2 linked regions of the Homo sapiens genome follow. The protein of the gene in region 1 purifies or fractionates together with the protein of each later gene. This does not show direct contact. Each region holds a gene or a part of one and is shown in the gene's direction. Other genes may lie near its edges. The genes, in order: ZBTB7C and ZBTB7A.

Region 1 (3,814 bases):
AGACTCTGTCCCATTCAGCAAACATATGTTATATGCCTACTCTGCACAGCAACTTTTGTACTCAAAACTGATTGGCGGGTTGACGTGGGGTCAGATCTGCCCACTGCCAGCTTTGGCTAGGCCTCACTTTTGGAAAATACGGCCCATTGGTGCTATCTCTGGTTCCTGGTGTGAGGCTGATCTTTTCAGCCATGTCCACAGGTGGGGAGGGCTCTGGTGGGTGGCCTGGCATCAGGGTTTGGTCATTTCAGTGTATCCTGTGTGTACAGAGCCTGGCGATGCCTGCCCTGTGAACATGACTTACTAGACTAGGTCCCTTCCCCACCCTGCCACTGTCCCTCTCAGAGAACTCACCTTGAGAGACCCACACTTGTTCCGGTGGCGGTGCTGCTGCCCCACTTCCTCTTGGAGATGTATCTTTGGGAATTGGTGGCAGCTCATTCTTTTGATTTTCCTCAGTGGGCCCAAAGCTTTGGCCCAAGGACACAGTGCAAGGTTGTGAATGAGACTGGATATCAAATCAGGGACTATGCTTTTCCAGGAAAAAAAAAAAAAAAAAAGATGAGTCCTCTAAAGTCATGAGACCTGTTCTTCTGGGTTGCTTGGAAACTACTGGAAGTTGCCAGAGAAGAGTTTCAGAAATCCATTCAGGTGACACTGGTGTGGCTGAAATAGCTCTGCAGGCTCCTCAGGGGACTGTTTTGAAGGAAACACTGATTATTTCCAAGGTGGCCTTGGGGTCCTGCTCACAGCTGCTTCTGTGAGGGGAACCCCAGACAGCATCTGTCCCAGGTGCTTCCAGTGACAGTAGAGGGAGAATCTGCAGGAGCAGAGGGGAAGGGCCTCACAGACCCAGGATGTGTTCCCTTGCCCTTAGCAGTGAGCTAGGCCAGCCACCCGGCAATGCTGACAGCAGGGCGCCCTGCTCCTGTTACTCCCCAGAGCAGATGGACCCAAGGTTCCTGAGATTCACCTCCCCTTGGATGTCCCTCAGTGACAGCCCTGCCACCCCAATGCCACCGTGGGTGATGCTGCCCCCTACCTCCTCCTGAATTCACCTTAGCCCCACAGAACCAGGCAGAACACCTGAACAAGGCTTGGCAAAAGCACAGGAATACCGAGGGAGATAAGCCAGAGCACCGTGTGAAAGCCAGATTCAAGTACAGCTCACCCATCTTCACGGGGGGCCTGGCTTCAGCCCGAGAGTCCCAGCCCCTGCATATGACTTTAAGGATGCCAGGAAGCTCTTCACAGGCCAGATCAGGAAAGCCAGCCATGTTATCAGCCTGGAGCGCCCTCTCCTGCCAACGCAGGCTCTGCCTCCCTAACTGCCCATGCCTGCCCCCTTGGCAGATGGCTAACAGGAGCACCTCTCCCTTCAGGGGAGACCGAGGCTGGTGACTCCAATTCCAAAAGGATCTATCTGTGTCTCAGGATATCGCACGGTGGCCCTGCTGGCACCCTGAGACCCCATCTCCCTTCTTCCCCACTCCCTTTCCTCTGGGCCTTCCCCACGCACAGCCTTCTGTGAGGTCCACGCCAGGTCTGGACAGTCTGTGCACCCTGTTTTAAGGGAAGGTTTTAACCGTGCGTAGTCACTGCAGACAGACTTCTCACCCTCTGGACCCTGGGACATTCTCTGGGAGTGGGCGTCCTGGTTTGGGCAGCAGTGCTGTGTTGTATAGGAGGGTGACATTCCAGGTTCCTCCCTCCCAGCACATTCCTGATGGTCACTTGGGGTGGCCTCTCTGTCTGCAGTCCCCACTCCCAGCCAGATGATAGGCAGTGGGGCAGCTCTGGTCATCCAGCCATCTGGCCTTGGGTTCCTCCTGCTCCAGAATGACGGCCATCTGGCCCCAGGCCTGTCTCCAGCTGAAGCTGCTGCATTGCAGCCCCCTCAGCACCCCCACCACTTGTTCCCACTGGTCTCTGACCCTCCCGAAAAAGATCAGACAAGCTCTTGGGTCCTTCTCTTCCCAGGAGGAGAGAAACCCCGAGCTGGGGAAAGGCAGGGTGGAGGAGATGGCTCCAGCCTGCCTCCCTTCAGAGGCTTTATTGCTCACTGTGGGCTGTGGCTGTCCTTGTGGGACACTCCCCACTCTCCTCCCCCTCACATTCTTCAGAATCACTGGGCCTTTGCTTCTCACCCCATCTCTGGAACTGCCCGGCAAGGATTCTTTTCCGTGCTTGAAGAGCCCCAAGCGTGGTCTGTCCAGGTTGAGGTTTTCCTGTAATTCTCCCTGTGGCCAAGGCTCCCTGCAGCCTTTCCACGGGGACCTTATTTTTGGCTGAATTCCCCAACGCGATTCCTAACACCTGCCCCTTCCACCTGGAAGCTCTTCAGCAGCCACTTAGAGCAGAGACGGCTGCCTCGTTGACGCAGAATTCCCAGACTCCCTTCCAAGGCCACGCCACTTCCTGAGACTGGGCCCTGTCATGTCACTCTTGTCCCCGCAGCAAGGACCCAGACATGCTGCCCTCAGGTCCTTCTCTCGGACATGATTTCCATTTCCCCTTCTGGAACCCGAGTCTTTCCTTCATCACAGCTGAGCTTCTGCCCTGGCAAAGCCCCATTTCCTCCCTCCTTGATGTTGGGAAGAGCTCAGGGTCTTGTGACACCCTCCCCGCCCCACCCCATGGGGTGCTGGAGAGGCCTGCCCTTCCCCTGCATGGTAGCCCTTCAGCCCAGGCTCTGAGTCACAGCCTCCCAGATGCCAGCTCCCAGAATGTCCACACCCCACGGGGACGTACTAATGACCTCAGCAGCCACAACCCAGGGGGAGGACATGGGAATCCTTCCAGCAGAGCCCCTTCACCCCTAAGGCCCTGCCTGCTGCTGTCATTCTGTGGGTCTAGAGAGGAGGGACAGAGGCCGCCCCACAATGGTATTGTCTGTTCTTTGGTGTCAGGAACCTCACCTCTGAGGCAGCTCTAGATTCCAGCCAGTCCTACCAGGTGTCCCACCACTGATCTGTTCCAAATATGAAATCTCCCTAGGCAGGGCCTCAACGGCATCAACCAAACTATTTCTTTGGCCCCATGCTGTCCCTTCCTAGCTCTGGTCACCCCATAGCCACTTGGGCTCCCTTTGCCTGTGCACTCCCTCGGTTTAGTTCAAAGACACCGTTTTCCTCCTGGGAAAGGCTTGTGCCTGTGCTGGCCACAGAGGCAGCTCCTGTCCCTTTCAGGTCTGACTTGGGACACAGAAACAGCTCCAGGTCATAGGGCAGAGGCAGTCTGGACCAAGATTACCTTAGATCCTCTTCATCAGGAATCCTTTCCCTTCTCTTCCCAGAAAGTCTGGAAGCCAGGAGCCAAAGGTTAGGATGGCAGGCTTCGGCCAGAGGTGATGCCTAGGAAGGGCCTAGAAGAACAGGGAGCATGTGATCTCAGGAAGATAAAGCATTTGTCTTCATGCACAGGGACACTGCTATGCTTGGTGGGTATTTTCCCTGCCCACGGACATCCCAGGTCCAGGTGGCCCCCGCACACCTTTTTGCCCCATCTGCAGCCATCACTGCCAACTGGGCCTGGCCCTGGGCCCTGTGAAAGCCTGTGCATCTTCCGCCTCTTAATTCCCACCACATGGGTCCTTGATTGCAGGCCATAGAGACTTGCCCCTTGCCTCCCCCAGCCCTTCTGTTAGTAGCTCCTAGAGAGCATGGCTGGCTGGTCTCCCTCCTGGAGCCCCTGCATCCTGTCACAGCCTGGCTCCCAGAGATGCCCCAGCCATGCCTGATGGGGACAGTAGTGAAGGCAAGAAACTGCAAAATGAAAACAGACTGGCCCAGAGACAGCAGAGGTCCCATAGAGC
Region 2 (3,814 bases), on another chromosome or scaffold:
TCTTCTGCCTCAGCGTCCTGAGTAGCTGGGATTACAGGCACGCGCCACCACGCCTGGCTGATTTTTTTTTTTAAGACGGAGTCTCGCTCTGTGGCCCAGGCAGGAGTGCAGTGGTGCAATCTCGGCTCACTGCAACCTCCACCCCCCAGGTTCAAGCGATTCTCCCGCCTCAGCCTCCCGAGTAGCTGGGATTACAGGCACGTGCCATCACGCCCATCTATTTTTGTATTTTTAGTAGAGACAGAGTTTCACTGTGTCAGCCAGGATGGTCTCGATCTCCTGACCTGGTGATCTGCCCGCCTCGGCCTCCCAAAGTGCTGGGATTACAGGTGTGAGCCACCACACCCAGCCTAATTTTTGTATTTTTAGTAGAGACAGGGTTTCACCATGTTGGCCAGGCTGGTCGCTGGTCTTGAACTCCTGACCTCAAGTGATCTGCCCACCTCAGCCTCCCCAAAATGCTAGAATTACAGGCGTGAGCACCGAGCCGGGCCTCAAAGTGCCCTTTCAACAGGCATTCCCGGGGGCCCTCCTCGGAGGGGTGGTGCCAGTGTGCTTGTGAAATTTAAGCGTCCAGTGTGGGTTTTGCCAGCCTCATCTCACGCTGATGAGACAGAACAGGGCATCTGACTGCTCTTGGGCACAGCTAGGGAAACTGAGGCTGATGGGGGGCAGGAAACCTGACTGTCCTCATGCACAGCTGGGGAAATTGAGGCTGGGGGCAGGACAGCTGGCCGCCCTTGTGTACAGATGGGAAACAGGTTGGGAGTGGGACACCTGATTGCCTTCCTGTACAGCTGGGGAAACTGAGGCTGGGGACATGACGTCTGATTGCTTTTGTGTACAGCTGGGGAAACAGGCTGGGGGAGGCAGGACATCTGACCATTCTCATGCACAGCTGGGGAAACTGAGGCTAGAGGATAGGACATTTGACTGCACTTGGGAACAGCTGGGGAAACTGAGGCTGGGGAGCCGGGACATCTGGCTATCCTCATGCACAGATGGAAAACAGTCTTGGCCGGGTGCCGTGGTTCATGCCTGTAATCTTAGCACCTTGGGAGGCAGGGGCGGTTGGATCATTTGAGGCCAGGGTTTTTTGATTTGTTTTGTTTTTTTGAGATGGAGTCTTGCTCTGTTGCCCAGGCTGGAGTGCAGTGGCGTGATCTCAGCTCACTGCAAGCTCTGCCTCCTGGGTTCATGCCATTCTCCTGCCTCAGCCTCCCGAGTAGCTGGAACTACAGGCCCCCGCCAACACGCCCGGCTAATTTTTTGTATTTTTTAGTAGAGACGGGGTTTCACTGTGTTAGCCAGGATGGTCTCCATCCCCTGACCTCATGATCTGCCTGTCTCGGCCTCCCAAAGTGCTGGGATTACAGGCGTGAGCCACCGCGCCAGGCCGAGGCCAGGGGTTTGAGACCAGCCTGGCCAACATGGTGATAGCCTGTCTCTGTATTAAAGACACACAAAAAAGAAAAGAGGCTGGAGGCAGGGCATGTATCGCTTTGGTGCACAGCTGGGGAAGCTGGGGCTGGAAAGGCGCGACATCTGACCGCCTTCACGTGCAGGTGGGAATGTGAGGCTGGGGGAGCAGGGTGGAACGCTGCTTCTCAAGGGCCTCGGGCCCTTGTCAGTGGGCACAGGAACCCCCGCACCCCCACTCACGAGCGCCCTCTCCTTCCCCACTGCTGCAGGTCTCGGCGCGGAAGATGGCCGGCGGCGTGGACGGCCCCATCGGGATCCCGTTCCCCGACCACAGCAGCGACATCCTGAGTGGGCTGAACGAGCAGCGGACGCAGGGCCTGCTGTGCGACGTGGTGATCCTGGTGGAGGGCCGCGAGTTCCCCACGCACCGCTCGGTGCTGGCCGCCTGCAGCCAGTACTTCAAGAAGCTGTTCACGTCGGGCGCCGTGGTGGACCAGCAGAACGTGTACGAGATCGACTTCGTCAGCGCCGAGGCGCTCACCGCGCTCATGGACTTCGCCTACACGGCCACGCTCACCGTCAGCACAGCCAACGTGGGTGACATCCTCAGCGCCGCCCGCCTGCTGGAGATCCCCGCCGTGAGCCACGTGTGCGCCGACCTCCTGGACCGGCAGATCCTGGCGGCCGACGCGGGCGCCGACGCCGGGCAGCTGGACCTTGTAGATCAAATTGATCAGCGCAACCTCCTCCGCGCCAAGGAGTACCTCGAGTTCTTCCAGAGCAACCCCATGAACAGCCTGCCCCCCGCGGCCGCCGCCGCCGCTGCCAGCTTCCCGTGGTCCGCCTTTGGGGCGTCCGATGATGACCTGGATGCCACCAAGGAGGCCGTGGCCGCCGCTGTGGCCGCCGTGGCCGCGGGCGACTGCAACGGCTTAGACTTCTATGGGCCGGGCCCCCCGGCCGAGCGGCCCCCGACGGGGGACGGGGACGAGGGCGACAGCAACCCGGGTCTGTGGCCAGAGCGGGATGAGGACGCCCCCACCGGGGGTCTCTTTCCGCCGCCGGTGGCCCCGCCGGCCGCCACGCAGAACGGCCACTACGGCCGCGGCGGAGAGGAGGAGGCCGCCTCGCTGTCGGAGGCGGCCCCCGAGCCGGGCGACTCTCCGGGCTTCCTGTCGGGAGCGGCCGAGGGCGAGGACGGGGACGGGCCCGACGTGGACGGGCTGGCGGCCAGCACGCTGCTGCAGCAGATGATGTCATCGGTGGGCCGGGCGGGGGCCGCGGCGGGGGACAGCGACGAGGAGTCGCGGGCCGACGACAAGGGCGTCATGGACTACTACCTGAAGTACTTCAGCGGCGCCCACGACGGCGACGTCTACCCGGCCTGGTCGCAGAAGGTGGAGAAGAAGATCCGAGCCAAGGCCTTCCAGAAGTGCCCCATCTGCGAGAAGGTCATCCAGGGCGCCGGCAAGCTGCCGCGACACATCCGCACCCACACGGGCGAGAAGCCCTACGAGTGCAACATCTGCAAGGTCCGCTTCACCAGGTGAGCTGCCCGCCGCGGGGGAGGCGCCGTCCTGCTCTCTGCCCCAGCATCCGCCGCTCACGACCCCTCCCGCCTCTCTCCCTGCACCGCACGCACACATGCACGCAGACGCACACATACACGCACGTGCACACAGACACGTACACGCACAGACACATGCACGTCACCTACACATCCACACACACGCAGACACACATACACGCACTTGCACATATATACGCACATGCACACACATGCACAGACGCGTATGCCACGTACACATGCACACACACAGACGCACACACGCACACGCACACCACATACACATACAGACATGCTACACAGACACATGCAGACACAGATGCACACCACATACACATCACATACACATGCACGCACACACACGCACACCGACATGCGCGCACACACACGCACACCACATACACATCACATACACATGCACGCACGCACGCACGCACACACGCACACCCAGGCACGCACACAGATGCACACGCACCCCCAGACATGCATGCAGGCACATGCACACAGACACGTACATGCGCACACATACATGCACATGCATGCAAACATGCACCCACAGACACACATATATGCACACACACGCAAACAGACACACCCCACCTCTTGGGCCCAAAGCCAACGAACGCTTCCCTGACCCACGTGGCTGTTAAGAACAGCCTAGACCAGGCCCTGCCCTTGTGGGTGGACATCCCGGTGGGTGACAGCACAGGCCAGACATAAGATGACAGCCACATCATATGCAAAGCGTGCCGGACAGGGTTGAGCTGCGGGAGGTGGGCGGGAAGGCACAGTCGTTCTTCCTTCCTGGAGGGCTGGTTCTTCTCT

The links.
Region 2: the proteins of ZBTB7C (region 1) and ZBTB7A purify together in Homo sapiens (affinity purification with mass spectrometry; one large-scale study listed by BioGRID and IntAct). This does not show direct contact.

The regions. Positions count from the first base shown.
Region 1 is NC_000018.10:48,035,294-48,039,107, reverse strand, and holds part of ZBTB7C (zinc finger and BTB domain-containing protein 7C), read left to right. Parts: intron 1-3,814. UniProt on the Homo sapiens protein: May be a tumor suppressor gene.
Region 2 is NC_000019.10:4,053,125-4,056,938, reverse strand, and holds part of ZBTB7A (zinc finger and BTB domain-containing protein 7A), read left to right. Parts: intron 1-1,417; exon of another isoform or gene 1,418-1,430; coding exon of another isoform or gene 1,431-1,565; intron 1,566-1,691; coding exon of another isoform or gene 1,692-1,706; coding exon 1,707-2,968; intron 2,969-3,814. UniProt on the Homo sapiens protein: Transcription factor that represses the transcription of a wide range of genes involved in cell proliferation and differentiation.